2 linked regions of the Homo sapiens genome follow. The protein of the gene in region 2 interacts with the protein of the main gene of each other region in a pairwise test. Each region holds a gene or a part of one and is shown on either strand. Other genes may lie near its edges.

What was found.
Region 1: the proteins of ZDHHC4 (region 2) and DRD2 interact in a two-hybrid assay, tested with the Homo sapiens proteins (one large-scale study listed by BioGRID and IntAct).

Annotation. Positions count from the first base shown.
Region 1 is NC_000011.10:113,423,111-113,426,922, forward strand, and holds part of DRD2 (D(2) dopamine receptor), read right to left. Parts: intron 1,573-3,812; 5' UTR 1,542-1,572; coding exon 1,257-1,541; coding exon of another isoform or gene 1,253-1,256; intron 1-1,252. UniProt on the Homo sapiens protein: Dopamine receptor whose activity is mediated by G proteins which inhibit adenylyl cyclase. Positively regulates postnatal regression of retinal hyaloid vessels via suppression of VEGFR2/KDR activity, downstream of OPN5.
Region 2 is NC_000007.14:6,576,169-6,580,550, reverse strand, and holds the start of ZDHHC4 (palmitoyltransferase ZDHHC4), read right to left. Parts: upstream 3,098-4,382; 5' UTR 3,053-3,097; exon of another isoform or gene 2,831-3,052; intron 2,674-2,830; exon of another isoform or gene 2,579-2,673; intron 2,051-2,578; exon of another isoform or gene 1,986-2,050; 5' UTR 1,888-1,985; coding exon of another isoform or gene 1,831-1,887; exon of another isoform or gene 1,805-1,830; intron 1-1,804. UniProt on the Homo sapiens protein: Palmitoyltransferase that catalyzes the addition of palmitate onto protein substrates including the D(2) dopamine receptor DRD2, GSK3B or MAVS.

The sequences.
Region 1 (3,812 bases), on a different chromosome or scaffold from region 2:
GATGATCCCTAAATGCTCCCACATCTGCTCGCTGGCTCTGAAGGTGTCTTCCTGGAGAATAATATCTGCTTTGGGATTTCTCCATCAGCATTTCTCCCTGTGACCTGGGTGAAGAAAGGCAACTTCTCCAAAGCTTCTATTTCCTATTTTGTTTTTGTTTTAATTTAATTTTATTTTTTTTTTGAGACAGAGTCTTGCTCTGTCGCCCAGGCTGGAGTGCAATGGTATGATCTCAGCTCACTGCAACCTCTGCCTCCCAGATTCAAGCAATTCTCCTGCCTCAGCCTCCCAAGTATCTGGGATTACAGGCATATGCCACCACACCTGGCTAATTGTTGCATTTTTAGTAGAGATGGGGTTTCACCATGTTGGCCAGGCTGGTCTTGAACTCCTGGCCTCGTGATCTGCCTGCCTCGGCCTCCCAAAGTGCTAGGATTACAGGCGTGAGCCACCGTGCTCGGCCTGTTTCCTATTTTGTAAAGTGAGAAGAGTAGCATGGACTCCCAGGGTTACCAAGAGTATTCACTGGGTCTGTGTCAGCAATGCACCAGGCACAGTGTCTAGACTGTGCTGCCTACTCCCCATTTTGAGGTGCAGAGCTGGGCCAAGAAATGAGTGACTACACAATTCTTCCTAACAAAAGGGCTACAGCACAGTCCATGGCAGCCTCTACCTGCAGGTCCTGGACAGGGCCCCAGGATAAGCTGTGGGAAGGAGAGGGGATATGGGGAGCATAAAGCAGCAGACCCATTTCTGAAGTGGGGAGATGGGAGTGAAGGTTTCAGGGGCCTGGGAGCATAAACATGCCCCTCCTTGGGGATCCTTGCCGGTTACTCCTATTTCCAATATGACCTAAGGAACTAACTCTGAGGCCAGAATTCCAGCTTGGACTTGCCAGCCGTGTGATGCTGCAGCAGTTACTTAACATCTCTGACCACCTGGTTTATCAACTGCAAAATGGTGGCAATAATGCCAGCCTCTAAGCTGCTGTGAGGGTTATATAGGAAAATGCTATATTTAAAGTCCCTACGTGAGGCCCAGCACTTAGTAAGCACTTTACAAATGGTAGTTGGGATTATTAAGGAAACAATCTACCCATTTCGTAAGGAGAAAAAGTAAGCCCAGAGTGAAGGAAAAACCACCTGGGGAAGCACCAGGAAACTCATTGGTAAAAGCCAGTGGGGAGCTAGAGTCCCCAGTGTCCAGTGCAGGGCCCTGCTGGAGAAAGTGCTGGAGCAAGCAGGGGGCCCACCTACCTCCAGGTAGACAACCCAGGGCATGACCAGTGTGGCGACGAGGAGGTCGGCCACTGCGAGGCTGACGATCAGGTAGTTGGTGGTGGTCTGCAGCGCCTTCTCGCGGGACACAGCCATGCACACCAGCACGTTGCCGAAGACGATGACAGCGATGAGCAGGGTGAGCAGTGTGGCATAGTAGTTGTAGTGGGGTCTGTCCGCCTTCCCGTCTGACCCGTTGAAGGGCCGGCTCCAGTTCTGCCTCTCCAGATCATCATCATACCAGGACAGATTCAGTGGATCCATCAGGGCGGTGGAGCCACTGGGTGGCCAGGCTCTGGCCAGGAAAAATGGACACAAGGTGTCAGTGAGAGGGCCTCTTGCAGAGGTCTCCAGGAAGAAGACCAACTCCTGGCATTTAATAATGAGAATTTTCCAACTCGGGATTTTAAGGTTTACGGCTAAGAATTTTCTAAAAATGTTGGGCCTTCTGCCACTCTTTTGCTAGCAAGTTTTTACAGCTGGTAGGACAAATGAGCAAACACAATTTTTTAAAAATGCATAATAAGATGAGCTTGAACAGAGCTGATCCATCATTTATTTATTCATTCAACAAACACTTCTTAAGCACGACCCATGCACCACACACTTCAGTTAACCAGGCTTGCTACCTTCTAGTCATCGAAACAGAAATGGGTATTCATTCATTCTTGATTCTATAAATATTTATTAAGCATTGTTCTATATAGTTCTAGAAATATAGGCAGGAACAAAATATACATGGTTCTGTAGCTCACATTCTAGGAGAAACAACAGCCAATTAATCAAGCAATTACATCTAAGGGTGATAGGGAGTAGGAAATGGAACAGGGAGAGAGATACATAACCTAGTTCAGGTATTCAGGGAAGGCTTTCTAGAGGAAGTGATGTTCAACAGACAAACAACTGAAGGATGTGTAGGAATTAGCCAGGTAAAGAACTAGGAGTCAGCAGAAGGTCTAGACATTGGAAGCAGTATATGCAAAGCACAGAGGTAGAGAGGTAGACAGCAGGTGGAGGGCCTCAAAGAGATTCTGGATAGCTGATGCAGAGGGACCTGGCAAGGGTTGAGTCTGGGGAGGTTGCAATAGGCAAGATCATAGAGGGCCTTAAAAGTCATGCTAGGAGTTTATACATGATCCTAAGGGCAGCAGGAACCACATGATCAGATTCGCCTTTCGAATAGGTGATTCTGACAGCACTGTGGAGAACGGAGAGGAGGGGCCCAGAGTGGAAGCGGGACACCAACTGGGAGGCTGTAGCAGGAATCCAGGTAAGAGATGATGAGGTTTGGCAGGATGCAGGGAGTGAAAGCCCTGCAGAATGGGCATCTCATCCCACAGAAGGGAAAGACTTCCTGAAGTGGGTATCATCTGGGATGAAGTAGAAGGAGGACTTAGCCTGCTAAATGAGAGGGGTGGGGGGATGTTCCAGACAGACAATATGACATGGTATCAAATCATCAAACAGCAAACAATTCTGTTTGGCCAAAAATGTAGGGTATGGCAGTAACGTTGAGGATAATTAAACTGCAGGGACATTTACAGGCCAGATTGTGTCTTGTCAGCTGGAGAGTCCCTGAGAGGTTGGGCCCAGAGACATGACCCTATTGGACTGGTGTTCTAGAAAGTGTATGGTGTAGAAGAGAGCTCAGAGGAGAGTGATGTTTTGGCTGTAATTTAGGTTAGAAATTGTGGTCATCTGAACGAAGATAGTGGAAACGAGGATGGAGAGACCTGTTCAGAATTAGGAGCTAAACTGCAAGTCAATTTCATGGTCCTTGGTCCTTGGATAGGTGTGGGGCAAAAGTGGGTATGGGACAAGCAGGGAGATAAGGAGTTGAGGGTAATGCTAGGATTTCTGCGTGGGGCTCTGGGAGGCTGGTGTCGCATATTCACAGAGAAAAGGGACCAGAGGGGCTCAGGAGCAGACTTGGGAGGCATCAGGAGTTGATGAACTTGACAGCCGGAGTTTTGGTTGTGACTGAAGCATAATGCATGGATAATATAGTTGGCTTTTCAGCTAACAAAAGTCTTCCTCTTTTACAGAATAGAATTAAACTTATCAGCATTCCAAGGTGTTTCATACAAAGCACATGACTTCCAGGTACTTTGCTACTGCAAATTGAAAACCACCAATTGATGCCATTTGGGATGAATGTGGTGCCATGTCCAATCAATGAACAGGGCACACCTCCAGCAATGGGTCAGAGAGGATGGTGGAAGAGGGTCTGCCCAATCTCCACACTCTCATCCCTGTCTGACACACCCACTCTTCCAGCTTTAGTAGAAGAATATGGATCATGTCCTACCAACCACCATCACTCTGGAGCCTCGGGGAAAAGCAAAGTGCCTAATTCCATGTGGGGTGACATGGAATGCCACCACGCAGCAAATCTTCCTGTTCTAAGGTAATGAAGCATATGTCATATTGATGCTGTATTCTGCAAAACCAACTGAGCCCTCTTCCCATTTGGAGCCCACAGCGGGAGGCCTGCATGTATGTATTGATCAGGTGCCTGGGGCTGCTTCTGACATT
Region 2 (4,382 bases):
AAAGGAACAGAAAGAGTGTGACTATCTGCTACTGAAAGGTTTCTTCCATGGCACACATTCTCAGACATCAACTCCCAAATGGCTACCAAAACAGAATTCATCTAGACTTTAATGACATCTCAAAGCAAAAAGCAGAAAGACAAACAGAACAGAATTCACCAATTCTTAGGCACACATAACAGAGGCCTGCTGCCTCTCAGTGGGGCCTCCAAAATGGTCCTGAGCTCCCTCAATCAAGATAAAAATTCTGGGCCAGGTGCAGTGGCTCATGCCTGTAATCCCAGCACTCTGGGAAGCAGAGGTGGGTGGATCGCTTGAGCTCAGGAGTTCGAGACCAGCCTGGGCAACATAGTGAGGCCCTGTCTCAATTTAATAAAATAAAAAATAAAAAAAGAAAGATAAACTTTTTTTTTTTGAGACAGAGTTTCACTCTTGTTACCCAGGTTGCAGTGCGGTGGCGTGATCTTGGCTCACTGCAACCTCCGCCTCCCAGGTTCAAGCAATTCTCCTGCCTCAGCCTCCTGAGTAGCTGGGATTATAGGCACGCACCCCATGCCTGGCTAATTTTTGTATTTTTAGTAGAGATGAGGTTTCACCATGTTGGCCAGGCTGGTCTCGAACTCTTGAACTCAGGTGATCCACCTGCCTCGGCCTCCCAAAGTGCTGGGAGTACAGGCGTGAGCCACTGCACCTGCCCAAGATAAAAACTTTGAATCTAACACCCTAAGACTGTGGCCTGCCTTTGAAGCATCTCCAACTTGCAAATCCAAAATAAACCAAGAAAGAACATGCATCCTCCTTCCTTGCCCCCAGGCATGAATCATTCTTTTACTTCCTTAAATATTCACAAAGATACAAGATGTGTCCCCAAAGAATCTGCTGACAATGCCTTGAGAACAAGCATCTCCTAGAGGCAGTCAGGAGCCCTGCACCCAGAATCAGGCATCCTGTCCTAAGAAGCATCCCTCCAGGACACTGGCCACAACCATCAGGAATTACCCTCTGGAACCAGAGTCAACACACAGGCCTGCGTTAAAATACTGGATACTGAGGCCGAGCGTGGTGGCTCATGCCTGTAATCCCAACACTTTGGCATGTCGAGGCAGGCGGATCACGAGGTCAGGAGTTCGAGACCAGTCTGGCCAACATGGTGTAATCCCCATCTATACTAAAAACACAAAAATTAACCGGGCGTGGTGGCACATGCCTGTAATCCCAGCGACTCAGGGGGTGGAGGCAGGAGAATCTCTTGAACCCAGGAAGCGGAGGTTGCAGTGAGCCGAGATCGCGCCACTGCACTCCAGCCTGGGCAACAGAGCGAGACTCCGTTTCAAAAAAAAAAAAAGAAAAGACACTGGATACTGGAACTCTTTTCCATAGTGTAGCGGTTTAAGAAAAAAAAAGAAGAAAAAAAAGGTACTGGAATTGGCCGGCCGTAGTGGCTCGTGCCTGTACTCCCAGCACTTTGGAAGGCTGAGGTGGGAGGATCACTTGAACCCAGGAGTTCAAGACCAGCCTGGGCAACAAAGCGAGACCCCCATCTCTACAAAAAATACAAAAATTAGCCAAGTGTGGTTGCGCATGCCTGTGGAGGCTGAGGCGGGAGGATTGCTTGAGCACAGGAGTTCAAGCCTGGGCGACAGCATGAGACCCTGTCTCAAAAACAAACCAAAAAAGATACCGGAACTGGTCACTTTTGACCTTAGCAGATAAGATTCTGGGCTGTAATGCCAAGTGAGATAACCAAACAAGAAGCTATTCATGACATGATAGGTGAGAGTAAACAAACAGCAGCAATTCTCACGGGGTGATTCAGGGTACCCAGCCTACATTTCTCTTGGTTGGGTAATTTTCAGCCGGCAGCTCTGGCATTCCTCTTCCCAACATTCACAGATAATTCAAACAGCAGCTCCTCTTGGGCAGCAGTGTGTGCCTGGCATGACCAGTAGCTGCCGGACATGGTTCTTCCAGGAGCCTGGATCTGGCTGCAGAGACAGATCAATTCAACACCCACATAAGACGACAAGAGTTGCAGTCAAAGGCAGAATACCTGTGGAAAAGGATTTGGAAGTAGGGGATTTTCAGCACCCCCAGCATGAATGGGTAAGACTTTGGGAGAAATGGCCCAGACTAAGTTGCTTAGGCCTGCTCCCAAATCTTTGGGAGGCCCAGGCAGGAGGATAGCTTGAGGTTAAGAGTTCGAGACCAGCCTGGGCAACACAGTGAGATCACTGTCCCTACATAAAAATTTAAAAATCAGTGGGGCGTGGTGGCCCGCGCCTGTGGTCCCAGCTACTTGGGAGGCTGAGGTGGAAGGATGGCTTGAGCCCAGGAGGTCGAGGCTGCAGTGAGCTGTGATCGTGCCACTGCCTTCCAGCCTGGGCCATAGAGCTGGACCCCATCTCTAAAAACAATAAAAGAGGCCGGGCGCGGTGGCTCACGCCTATAATCCCAGCACTTTGGGAGGCCGAGGCGGGTAGAACACCTGAGGTCAGGAGTTCGAGACCAGCCTGACCAACATGGTGAAATCCGTCTCTACTAAATACAAAAAAAATTAGCTGGGCGTGATGGCGCATGCCTGTAATCCAAGCTACTGGGGAGGCTGAGGCAGAATTGCTTGAATCCGGGAGGCGGAGGGTGCAGTAAGCCGAGATCGCGCCACTGCACTACAGCCTGGGAAACAAGAGCGAAACCCCGTCTCAAAATACAATAATAATAAAGACTTTGTGAGAAACAGCTAGTTGGGAAGAAATAAGCCAAGTCGGTAGCCTTGGGTCTCTCCCCGCCACTCCCCATTAGGGCCTCCCGAAGCCACCCCCATCCAAGGCACCTCCTGGGCGGGCCTGGTCGGAGATTTCCCTGGGGGCTGGAGCCCTGGTAGGGGGACGTGGAGTGCAGCAGGCTCGGAGGGGACACCGGGGCCGCCCCGGACTCGGGCGAGGTGGGGGTGGGACGGCGGCCCTACACACAAGGGGAAAGGGAGGGTCAGAGGAGGAGACTGACGGTCCTGGGACAGCCCAAGCTTCCCACAGCCCCGCGGAGGCGGCCTTACCGCCAGCCGCTGGGCTCCGGCGCCTCCCGGGCGCGATACGAGACTTCCTGCGGGCTCGTGACATCAGCACGGCGCCCCTGAGGGGCTGACTTCCGGCGGAAGTGTGCGAGGGCCGCCGCGGGTTGCGGGGCTGGAGTAACAGTGACCTCCCCGGCGCCCTCGCAGCCAGCCTGGGGACCTCCGTGGCCGGGTGTAACCGCTGGGAAGTGCGATTTTATTTTATTTTATTTTATTTTATTTTATTTTATTTTATTTTATTTTATTTTATTTTATTTATTTTATTTTATTTATTTTATTTTATTTATTTTATTTTATTTATTTTATTTTATTTATTTTATTTTATTTTATTTTATTTTATTTTATTTTATTTTATTTATTTTATTTTATGTATTACCTATTTTCTTATTTACTTATGTATTCGTTCATTCATTCAGAAACAGCCTCGCTCTGTCGCCCAAGCCGGAGTGCAATGGCGCTATCCTAGCACACTACAACCTCCAACTCCTGGGCTCAAGCAATGCCTCCTGCCTCAGCCTCCCAAGTAGCTGGGACCACAGGTGCATGCCACCACACCCGCCTAATTTTTTTTTTTTTTTTTTTTTTTTTGTAGAGACGGGTGTCTCACTATGTTGCCCAAGCTGATCTCGAACTCCCGGGCTCAAGTGATCCTCCCACCTCGGCCTCCCAGAGTGTTGAGATTACAGGCGTGAGTCCCTGCACTGGGCTGGAAGTGGGATTTTAGAGCAGTATTGCCAGGAGACTTACAGGAGGACCGACCTGGGCCTGGTGGGGGCGATCATTCTGGGGCTGTGACAGGGACTAAGCTGCCCTGCGGCCTGCACAGAGACCAGTCATGTCCCTGCTCAGAGCCCAGCAGGGGGATCCAGGTGGCCCAGGGCAGTCACACTTAGGGGGCTCTCAGACTATGTCTGTGTGGTGGACAGAGTTTGCTTTCAGCCACCCACACTGTTGAGATCTAGCAGAACATTTCCAGCATCTTCCGTTGCAGAAGCGGGCAGAAAGCACAATGTGTACCCATCAGTCAGATTCCGCTCCATGTGTGTCCTTGCTCCTGATGACAAGGACATGTTGCTCTGTACAGCCCTAAATATCCTCGGGGCAGTGACAAATACTTGACCACAAACGTTGAGGATAAAAGGGAAGGGTGTTTGATGCTAGGCAGGCTTGGGGTAACAAGAGCTGCTTCCAAACATAGCCCTGAGAAGGCCCTGTGGGGTGTCCTTTGCTCTGACCATCTCTGAATCAGCTGAGGCCAGGGTCTATTCCTGATGCCTCTGAAGACCTGAGCCAGGCCTGTCCTCCTTTGAGG